2 linked regions of the Homo sapiens genome follow. The protein of the gene in region 2 purifies or fractionates together with the protein of the main gene of each other region. This does not show direct contact. Each region holds a gene or a part of one and is shown on either strand. Other genes may lie near its edges.

Region 1 (4,426 bases), on a different chromosome or scaffold from region 2:
TTTTCTCAGTCAGGCCCTTGAGAAGCTCAGAGGTTCGAGGTATTATTCCTATATTCCCATTTTTGTTGCCCTAGAGGGAAGGAACTAACAAACAAAAACTAAAGGGAAGGCTGGGCGTGGTGGCTTACACCTGTAATCCCAGCGCTTTGGGAGGCCGAGGCAGAGGGATCACCTGAGGTTAGGAGTTCGAGACCAGCATGGCCACCATGGTGAAACCCCGTCTCTAATAAAAATACAAAAATTAGCGGGGCGTGGTGGCGCGCGTCTGTAATCCCAGCTACTTGGGAGGCTGAGGCAGGAGAATGGCATGAACCTGGGAGGCAGAGTTTGCAGTGAGCCAAGATCGTGTCATTGCACTCCAGCCTGGGTGAGAGAGTGAGACTCCGTCTCAAAAAAAAAAAAAAAGGAAAGAAAAACTAAAGGAAAGAAGACTTCTGTCTGTGGTAGAGACAAGTATAAGGAAATGCACCACCTCGACAGGGAGTGAACTCCGTCTACAGCAAATGCCCATTCAGTGGTGATGTAGTAAAAAGTACTGGCCGGGCGCGGTGGCTCACGCGTGTAATCCCAGCACTTTGGGAGGCCGAGGCGGGAGGATCACAAGGTCAGGAGATGGAGACCATCCTGGCTAACACGGTGAAACTCTGTCTCTACTAAAAATACAAAAAAGAAAAAAATTAGCTGGGCTTGATGGTGGGCGCCTGTAGTCCCAGCTACTTGGGAGGCTGAGGCAGGAGAATGGCGTGAACCCAGGAGGCGGAACTTGCAGTGAGCCGAGATTGCGCCACTGCACTCTAGTCTGGGTGACAGAGCAAGACTCCGTCTCAATTAAAAAAAAAAAAAAAAGTACTGAAGCACAGGATGGGAAAGTGAGACTAAATGACCCTTGAAGTCCCTTCTAGCACTATGGTTGTAAGATTCTTTAAAATATAACAATGGCATACAATAAGTATCTGGTATAACTTTATTATTTTCTGTCCCCACCATATTTAGTTTCCTCTCTAATTGCATAAAAGATGTTGGCTACCAATCACTAAAGACTAACCAAAGACTGAAACTTTGGAGAGCTAAAACCAGTAACTATAGTAATAATAAACAGTTGAGTGCTTTTTATGGGCCAGGTACTATGCTGAGCATTTTACATACATTATCATGTTTATACATTACAACCACCTCATGACATGGGCACTGGAATTATCCTCATTGTAGAGATGAGCAAACTGAGCTTCAGAGAATTTGAGCAACTTGACTGAGGTCACAGAGCTATCAAGAACAGCTGAAATTAGAACCCATTCCACCTGTCACTGAAGTACTTTAACCACAATCTCACTGTGCCTCCTGATCTTATAATATTAACGACAACAGCTAACATGTACAAATTGTGGTCAGACATTGGGATAAACGTTTTAGACATTTTCTTATTTAAAGCCCATAAGGTGTGATTTATGAGATTTATGACATTATGAGGTGGGACTCACCTATTAACCTCATTTTACAGAAGAAAAAAAAAATGGAGCTCCAGAGAGTTTAGAAGAGACCAGGACACTGACAAGAAATACCTTAAAATTAACCTTCATGATCAATGTGACTTGACTTCTGCTTTATGCCCAGTGTTCTCTTCTGGAGCACCCTGAGTACGTCCTTGCTGAATTACATGAAGAATTTAACTATTCTTTCTGTGGCTGGAATCCAGGGAAGGTGATGGGCTTTATTCTAGCTAGAAGGCATCCTAGAAATCACCTAATCCAATGTGTCAGTTCCCAAACACAGACTGACACCAGTTCATGACCAAACATCACCAGTCCAGGGTCAGTCAGAAAATGTGGACAAAGTAATGAGCATTTCATTCAATTTAGTTAATATTTAAGTAAAATTAAAGACTATAAAGTTTATTAACTTTTTTCCAGTTAAAATTTAAGTAAAATAATCCTAAGCCAGACCATCTTTTTCCCAGCACAGGTGTGTCTCCACCACTTCCCTCTTTTCAAACACTATTTCAGGTGCACGGAGATATCCATGCCTCCACTCTCACACTGTTTTCTCATCTTTTTTTCCCACATTCAAAATCCTCTGAATTCAGAGCCAGCTAAAGATTCCCTCCTCTGCCCCATGCATAGTTACCTGGGCCATGTCCCCTGGTGGTAAGCATCCTTGGAAAGGCTGCAGTGAAGTCTCTCTGCCGAGTCGGTGCAGGGGTGACCTTGGCTAATGTCAGAAACAACATAAGGATGAAAATTATCTGAGAGCAGAAAGCTTATTTCAGGGAATCAAAGGGGCAGCAAGAAAAAAATGCGAAAGACAATTAAGAAAGAGAAATACACCCTCAGCTTCCAAACCTGCCTGGATACCTACGTTGAGAGTGTATCACACACTTCAAATGTTTGACAAAGGTAAGATGCAGTCATCATTGTTACATTCTGATTATTAATAGCGGAACTAACAGCCACACAAATGGCCATAATTACAGGTTGAAGACTCCTTATCTGAAATGCTTGAGATCAGAAATGTTTTAGATTTTGAATTTTTTTTTTTTTTTTGAAACGGAGTTTTGCTCTTGTTGCCCAGGCTGGAGTGCAATGGCATAATCTCGGCTCACTGCAACCTCCGCCTCCTGGGTTCAAGCAATTCTCCTGCCTCAGACTCCTGAGTAGCTGGGACTACAGGCATGTGCAACCACACCTGGCTAATTTTGTATTTTTAGTAGAGACAGGGTTTCTCCATGTTGGTCAGACTGGTCTCGAACTCCCGACCTCAGGTGATCCACCCACCTCAGCCTCCCAAAGTGCTGGGATTATAGGCATGAGCCACCACGCCCAGCCATGTTTTTATTTTTTTATTTTTTAGTATCTGCCTATACTTATGTTCCAATGAGCTTTTCCTTTGAATGTCATGTCAGTGTCCAAAAAGTTTTGGATTTTAGAGCATTTCAGATTTTGGTGCATTTTAGGTTTTAGATTTTCAGATTTGGGATGCCCAACCTATAAAGGCTTTTAATAAAATATTATCACATAAAATCCTTCTAATGGCCCACATGATCGGTATTATTGTCATATTTTATAGAAGAGGAGCTCACAGCGTTTCAATAACTTGCTCAGGATTATATAGCTAGTAAGAGGCAGAGTTAGATGTAAACTCAGCTCTATCTGGGCACAAAGTACATGTTATAGAAATCTTAAGTCTGTTCACCTCCCAGCATACATGCATAACCCAGCAGTTCACCATGCTGGCTGCACCTGGGGTAAAATCACCTGAGGTAGACTCTGTAAAAAGCTAATGCTTAGCATCTACCTCCAGAGATGCTGATTTCTCTGGTTTTTGGTAGTGGGGTTTTTTCTTCTGCTTTTTAAGAGATAGGGGTAGCCACAGTATATCAGCCAGGCTGGTCTCAAACTCCTGACCTCAAGTGATCCTCCTGCTTCAGCCTCTCAAAGTATTGGGATTATAGGCATGAGCCACTGTACCTGGCATCTATAGTTGTTTAAAAACTCTCTATGTGATTCTAATGAGAGTCAGGGTCTCTAACCACTGATCTAGGCCTTTCATCCCATCTATACATTCCACCCATGAGTTTTGGCTTTTCTTTTCTTTTCTTTTTTTTTTTTTGAGACAGAGTTTCACCCTTGTCAGCCAGGCTGGAGTACAATGGCGAGATCTTGGCTTACCACAACCTCCGACTCCCAGGTTCAAGTGATTCTCCTGCTTCAGCCCCCCAAGTAGCTAGAATTACAGGCTCCCGTAACCATGCCTGGCTAATTTTTTGTATTTTTAGTGGAGACAAGGTTTTACTATGTTGGCCAGGCTGGTCTCGAATTCCTGACCTCATGATCCACCGGCCTCAGCCTCCCAAAGTGCTGGGATTAGAGGTGTGAGCCACCACGCCCAGGCACACCCATGAGTTTTAAAACAGAGAGAAGGTGTTAAATATCACTGAGCATCACCAATGGGGCCTGTTAAACTTTAGGTCTTAGTGGCCCTCCTCCAGGGCTATAATTAGGGAAGTCAGAGATGAGAACAATCAGTACCTTTAATATGATCCACAGATAAATCTTATTCATAAAGATGGCATGCAAATGTCCACTCACCTGGTTTGATGACCAACTTCAGGTTAAATTTTTCATCATTCATTATGCCTGGGATTTGGATCCGGCAGCAGTAGATCCCACTGTCTGCTAGAGTCACATTCTCTATGGTCAGGGACACATCTCCTTTGCGGAAATCCCCATTTAGCCAGTATCTGGATGTCCAATAATTCACATCCCTTTCATCAGTCCTGAGCACCACGTTGCCACATTCAAACACAGGACAGGCTCCTTTGCCCCAGCAGACGGGCACGAGGTTCCCTGGGGCGGCTGGGGTGTAGAAGCAGGGCAGATAGGCATTCTGACCGACCTCCGCTCTGTATTCCACTTCTGAGGACCCTGCATAG
Region 2 (5,352 bases):
ATCACCTGGACACAGATTCACTGAGGGGATGCTCCTGAGCCGCCCGGACTGTTCCACCTGATGCTCCGAGGGGCTAGGAGAAGCCTCCCCAGGGCTGCTTGCTTTGCAGGCAACACCCCAGGCCCCGCAGCAACCACCAAGCCTGTGACAGAGCCCCAGCCAGCCAGGGCTACGGCAAAGCCCTCTGGGACCTCCCTGGTTCCCTGGATTGGGAAAAGCCCTAGGGAATCTGATGGGGCCCTACCATCAGGGCTCCCAGAGAACAGGAGTCTTGGGGATGCCTTCCCCTGAGGGCCCAGCAAGCACTGGAAATAAACCTGGGCTCTCCGCCCGAAGTCAAAACCATAACAAACCACAACAACCGTGGCAACAGCAACACAGCACTCATGGAGTGCTCCCAGCGCCAGGCACGTGGCACATGCGCTCTCCCCACCAAGACACACAGCCCTATGGGGTAGGAACTATGAGTACTCCCCAATGTACAGAGGGGGAAACTGAGTCTCAGAAAGGTGATACCACTTGCCCCAGAGCTGAGAAAGCAGCTTATTCATTATTCAAACCCAGGGCCAGCTGGCTCCCAACACCTGGTCTTCCAAGATTATTTTTATTTTTTATATATTCACTTATTTTTTTTGAGATGGAGTTTCGCTCTTGTCACCCAGGCTAGAGTGCAGTAGCACGATCTCAGCTCACTGCAACCTCCGCCTCCTGGGTTCAAGTGATTCTCCTGCCTCAGCCTCCGTAGTAGCTGGGATTACAGGCATGTGCCACCACACCAGGCTGATTTTGTATTTTCAGTAGAGACGGGGTTTCACCATGTTGGTCAGGCTGGTCTCGAGCTCCTGACCTCAGGTGATCCACCTGCCTCAGCCTCCCAAAGTGCTGGGATTATAGGCATGAGCCACACGCTTGGCCACCAAGATATTTTTTAGTAGAGATGGGGTTTCACCATGTTGGCCAGGCTGGTCTCGAACTCCCAATCTCAGGTAATCTGCCTTGGTCTCCCTAAGTGCTGGGATTACTGGCATGAGCCACTGCGCCCAGCCACTGAGGTTGTTTTTCAAAGTTAAGAACCCTGGACGGGCGCAGTGGCTCACGCCTGTAATCCCGGCACTTTGGGAGGCTGAGGCGGGCAGATAACGAGGTCAGGAGATCGAAACCATCCGGGCTAACACGGTGAAACCCCATCTCTACTAAAAATACAAAAAAATTAGCCAGGTGTGGTGGCGGGCACCTGTAGTCCCAGCTACCCGGGAGGCTGAGGCAGGAGAATGGCATGAACCCGGGAGGCGGAGCTGGCAGTGAGCTGACACCGTGCCACTGCACTCCAGCCTGGGCAACAGAGCAAGACTCTGTCTCAAAAAAATAAAAAATAAAAAAATAAAAACCCTACAGTGTCACACAGATAAGATCATGTATTGGGGCCGTTATTTGTCTTTCATGGTGTCACAGCCTTGAGATTTTTAACAAATGATGAGAAAACCGTTTTTTATCTGTGCTTGCGTTTTCCCAACAGCTTCTGATTGTGCTTGGAATAAAACACTAAGTCCTCCCGTTCCCAGTGTCCTCCACCCACATGTACTTCCCCGCTCCCCATCTCCCTCTCTCTGCTCCCACCACACCGGCCTCTTCATCTTGTCCTTTCTTCAAAACATGCTAAACACATTCCCCACTCAGGGTCTCTGCCCATGCTGTTCCCTCTGCCTGGAAGGCCCAGTGATTTACTTAGAATGAAAGTAAGTGACCTCCTGGCCAGGCGTGGTGGCTCGCACCTGTAATCCCAGCACTTTGGGAGGCCGAGGCGGACAGATCACCTGAGGTCAGGAGTTCAAGACCAGCCTGGCCAACATGGTGAAACCCCATCTCTACTAAAAATACAAAAATTGAGGCCAGGTGAGGTAGCTCACGCCTGTAATCCCAGTACTTTGGGAGGCTGAGGCAGGTGGATCACGAGGTCAGGAGTTCAAGACCAGCCTGGCCAACATGGCGAAAACCCATCTCTACTAAAAATACAAAAAATTAGCCAGGCGTGGTAGCATGCGCCTGTAATCCCAGCTACTCGGGAGGCTGAGGCAGGAGAATCACTTGAACCCAGGAGGCAGAGGTTGCAGTGAGCCGAGATTGCGCCACTGCACTCCAGCCTGGGCAACAGAGTGAGACTCCATCTCAAGAAAAAAAAAAAACAAAACTGCTTTTCATGAAAAGCCAGGCCATAAAGGTAGGAAATGACTTTTAAAACGCAAAGAAATTGTCCAAAATATATAACGACTTTTACAAATCAATTTAAAAAAGGCTAGACAGACAATAAAAACATGTACTTCACAAACGACCAAATTCCGATGACCAATCAACATATGAAAAGGTGCTTAACCTCCATGAGTCATCAGGGAAACGCAAAGTAAAGCCACCTTGAGATCCAGGAACGCAGCCACCGGTGACTCTTAACACCAAGTGCCTGGCTAACATGGTGAAACCCCATTTCTACTAAAAATACAAAAATCAGCTGGGTGTGGTGGCACGCGCCTATAATCCCAGCTATTTGGGAGGCTAAGGCAGGAGAATCAGCTTGAACCCAGGAGACGGAGGTTGCAGTGAGCCGAGATTGTGCCTCTGCACTCCAGCCTGGGCAACAGAGCGAGACTCCGTCTCAAAACAAAAACAAAACAAAACACAAAAAAACCCACCAAGTGCTCAAGTGTTGGTGGGGAAGTGGAACCACCCGGAACTCTCGCCCACTGCCGGTGGGACACAAAATGGTGCAGCTGCTTTGGGAAAAGTCTGGCAATTTCTCTAAAGTAAACATGTACCTACTCTATGACTGAGCAATGCCACTTCTAGGAATCCACCTGAGAGAAATGAAAGGATGTGTGTCCATATTTAGACTTAGATGCAAACTTCATAACAGCCTTATTCATAAATCAAAATAGAAACAACCCAAATATTCATCAACAGAGGATGGGATAAACCAGTTGTGGGACATGGAGACAGCTGTGCAATGGAATCTATTCAGTACTCAAAAGAAACAAACCCGGCTGGGCGTGGTGGCTCATGCCAGTAATCATAGCACTTTGGGAGGCCGAAGTGGGGGGACCATTTGAGCCCAGGAGTTCGAGACCAGCCTTGACAACATGGTGAAATCCCATCTCCACAAAAAATACAAAAATTAGCCAGGTGTGGTGGCACGTGCCTGTGGTCCCAGTTACTCGGGAGGCTGAGGTGGGAGGACTGCTTGAGCCCAGGAGGACAAGAGGCAGAGGATGCAGTAAGCTGAGATCGAGCCACTGCACTCCAGCTGGGTGACAGAGCGAGACCTTGTCTCAAAAAAAAAAAAAAAAAAAAAAAAAAGGAAGACACTATTGACATGTACGATCAATGTGATCAATCTCTAAAACATTATGCTGGGCAAAAGGAGCCAGAAATAAAAGGCAACCTATTTATTAGCTGGGAGTGGTGGCACGTGACGGTGATCCCAGCTACTGGGGAGGCTGAGGCACAAAAATAACCTGAGGCTGGGAGGTTGAGGCTACAGCGAGCCATGATCACACCACTGCACTCCAGCCTAGGTGACACAGTGAGACCCTGTCTCAAAATAAAATAATAAAATAAAACAAAGGCAACCTACTGTGTGATTCCATTCACATGATGTTCAAGAACAGAGAAATCGAACCTGTGGTGATAAGAGGTGGTATGTATGGGGGTACAGGGCACTGGCCTGGGGGAGGCATGAAGGAGCCCTCTGGGGTGCTGGTCACTTGCGTTGCACACACACGGAAACACAGAGCTTCAGATGTGTCTCATACTTCACGCACTTCCAGGTCTGCATGTTACGCCACAGTCAGTTTGAAAACGTTACTTCAAAGGATTCTTGGATGACTCTCCCAAACCGCCAAACCGGGACCCCTCAGTTATCCTCCCAGAGACCCCATTGCTTTTCCTTTAGAACACAGTTTACCAGTTTTAGAACACAATTTACCATTTTTAATTCCATGCTCATCTGTGGGTTTATTTCCTCAACAGCCTCCACTAGGCCCGCCTGGTCCCCCAGAACCTAGCATGTGCCTAACACATAGTAGGTGCTCCATAAATATCTGTCGAATGAATGAAAGAGTAACCATAGGTTTCCTCCACCCACATCGTGAGCCCCTCAGGGCCAGTATCACATCGGTTTTGCTCATGCTCTAGAGTAAGGCCCTACCACGTAACAGGATCCCAAAGAGAGAGCAATTAGATGAAAGCCATATGGTCCTGTCATGCATACCTGAGTCAAAGATGGAGCCTGGCAGGTGAGTAGAACACAGTGACCTTTCAGCCTCAACAGCACAGTAGGAATTAAGCCAGCTGTGAAGGAAAAGAACTTTTTTTTTTTTTTTTTTTTTTTTGAGACAGGGTCTCGCTCTGTCACCCAGGCTGTAGTGCTGTGGTGCGATCTTGGCTTACTGCAGCCTTGGTCTTCTGGGCTCAAGCGATCTTCCCACCATAGCCTCCAGAGTAGCTGGGACCACAGGCGTACACCACCACGCCCAGCTAATTTTGGTATTTTTTGTAGCAATGGGGTTTTGCCAAAGGACAAATTCTTTTTAACTTGCAAAATATCACCAAGGCACAGGAGGTGCAGAGAAATTCTCTGAAGGTTTTGAGCCCTCTGGAAATAAAACACCAATCTGTCAATGCCAGTCTGAGTCAGAGTTTTCAAGGATCTCAGAGTGACCTGCTACCAGCCCACATGACACCCAAATGTGAAGGCAAAAAGGTGTCCCTGGACATTGTACAAAATCCTTGACTGGTACTCCTCAAAACTGCCAAGGCTATCAGCAATAGAGGGTTGGAAACTGTTACAGCCAAGAGGCGCCTAAGGAGACGTAACGACTAAACCTCATGTGGTATCCTGGGGGGCGAGCTGGAACAGAAAAGGGACATTAGAGGAAAACTGGCAAAGCCAAAGGAACAGTGGCGTTTAGCTAATAGTGATGTACCCGTGCTGGTTCCTTAGCTACAACCAATGTACACAGCAGCGTAAGATGTGAACCTTCGGTGAAGCTGGGTACCATGTGTAAAGGAACACTACTATCTTTGCAACTTTCCTGTAAGTCTAAACATTTTTTTTTTTTTTGAGACAGAGTCTCACTCTGTCACCAAGGCTGGAATACAGTGGTGCAATCTTAGTTCACTGTAACTTTCCCTCCCAGGTTCAAGTGATTCTCCTGACTCAGCCTCCCAAGTAGCCGGGATTACAGGCGTGCGCCACTGTGCTCAGCTAATTTTTTATATTTTTAGTAGAGACAGGGTTTCACTATGTTGGCCAGACTGGTCTTGAACCCCTGGCCTCAAATGATCTGCCCACCTTGGCCTCCC

What was found. The genes of interacting proteins can lie anywhere in the genome.
Region 1: the proteins of SH2B3 (region 2) and HAVCR2 purify together in Homo sapiens (pull-down; one study listed by IntAct). This does not show direct contact.

The regions. Positions count from the first base shown.
Region 1 is NC_000005.10:157,102,545-157,106,970, forward strand, and holds part of HAVCR2 (hepatitis A virus cellular receptor 2 precursor), read right to left. Parts: intron 4,419-4,426; coding exon 4,083-4,418; intron 2,206-4,082; coding exon 2,122-2,205; intron 1-2,121. UniProt on the Homo sapiens protein: Cell surface receptor implicated in modulating innate and adaptive immune responses. Generally accepted to have an inhibiting function.
Region 2 is NC_000012.12:111,419,395-111,424,746, reverse strand, and holds part of SH2B3 (SH2B adapter protein 3), read right to left. Parts: intron 4,339-5,352; exon of another isoform or gene 4,259-4,338; intron 1-4,258. UniProt on the Homo sapiens protein: Links T-cell receptor activation signal to phospholipase C-gamma-1, GRB2 and phosphatidylinositol 3-kinase.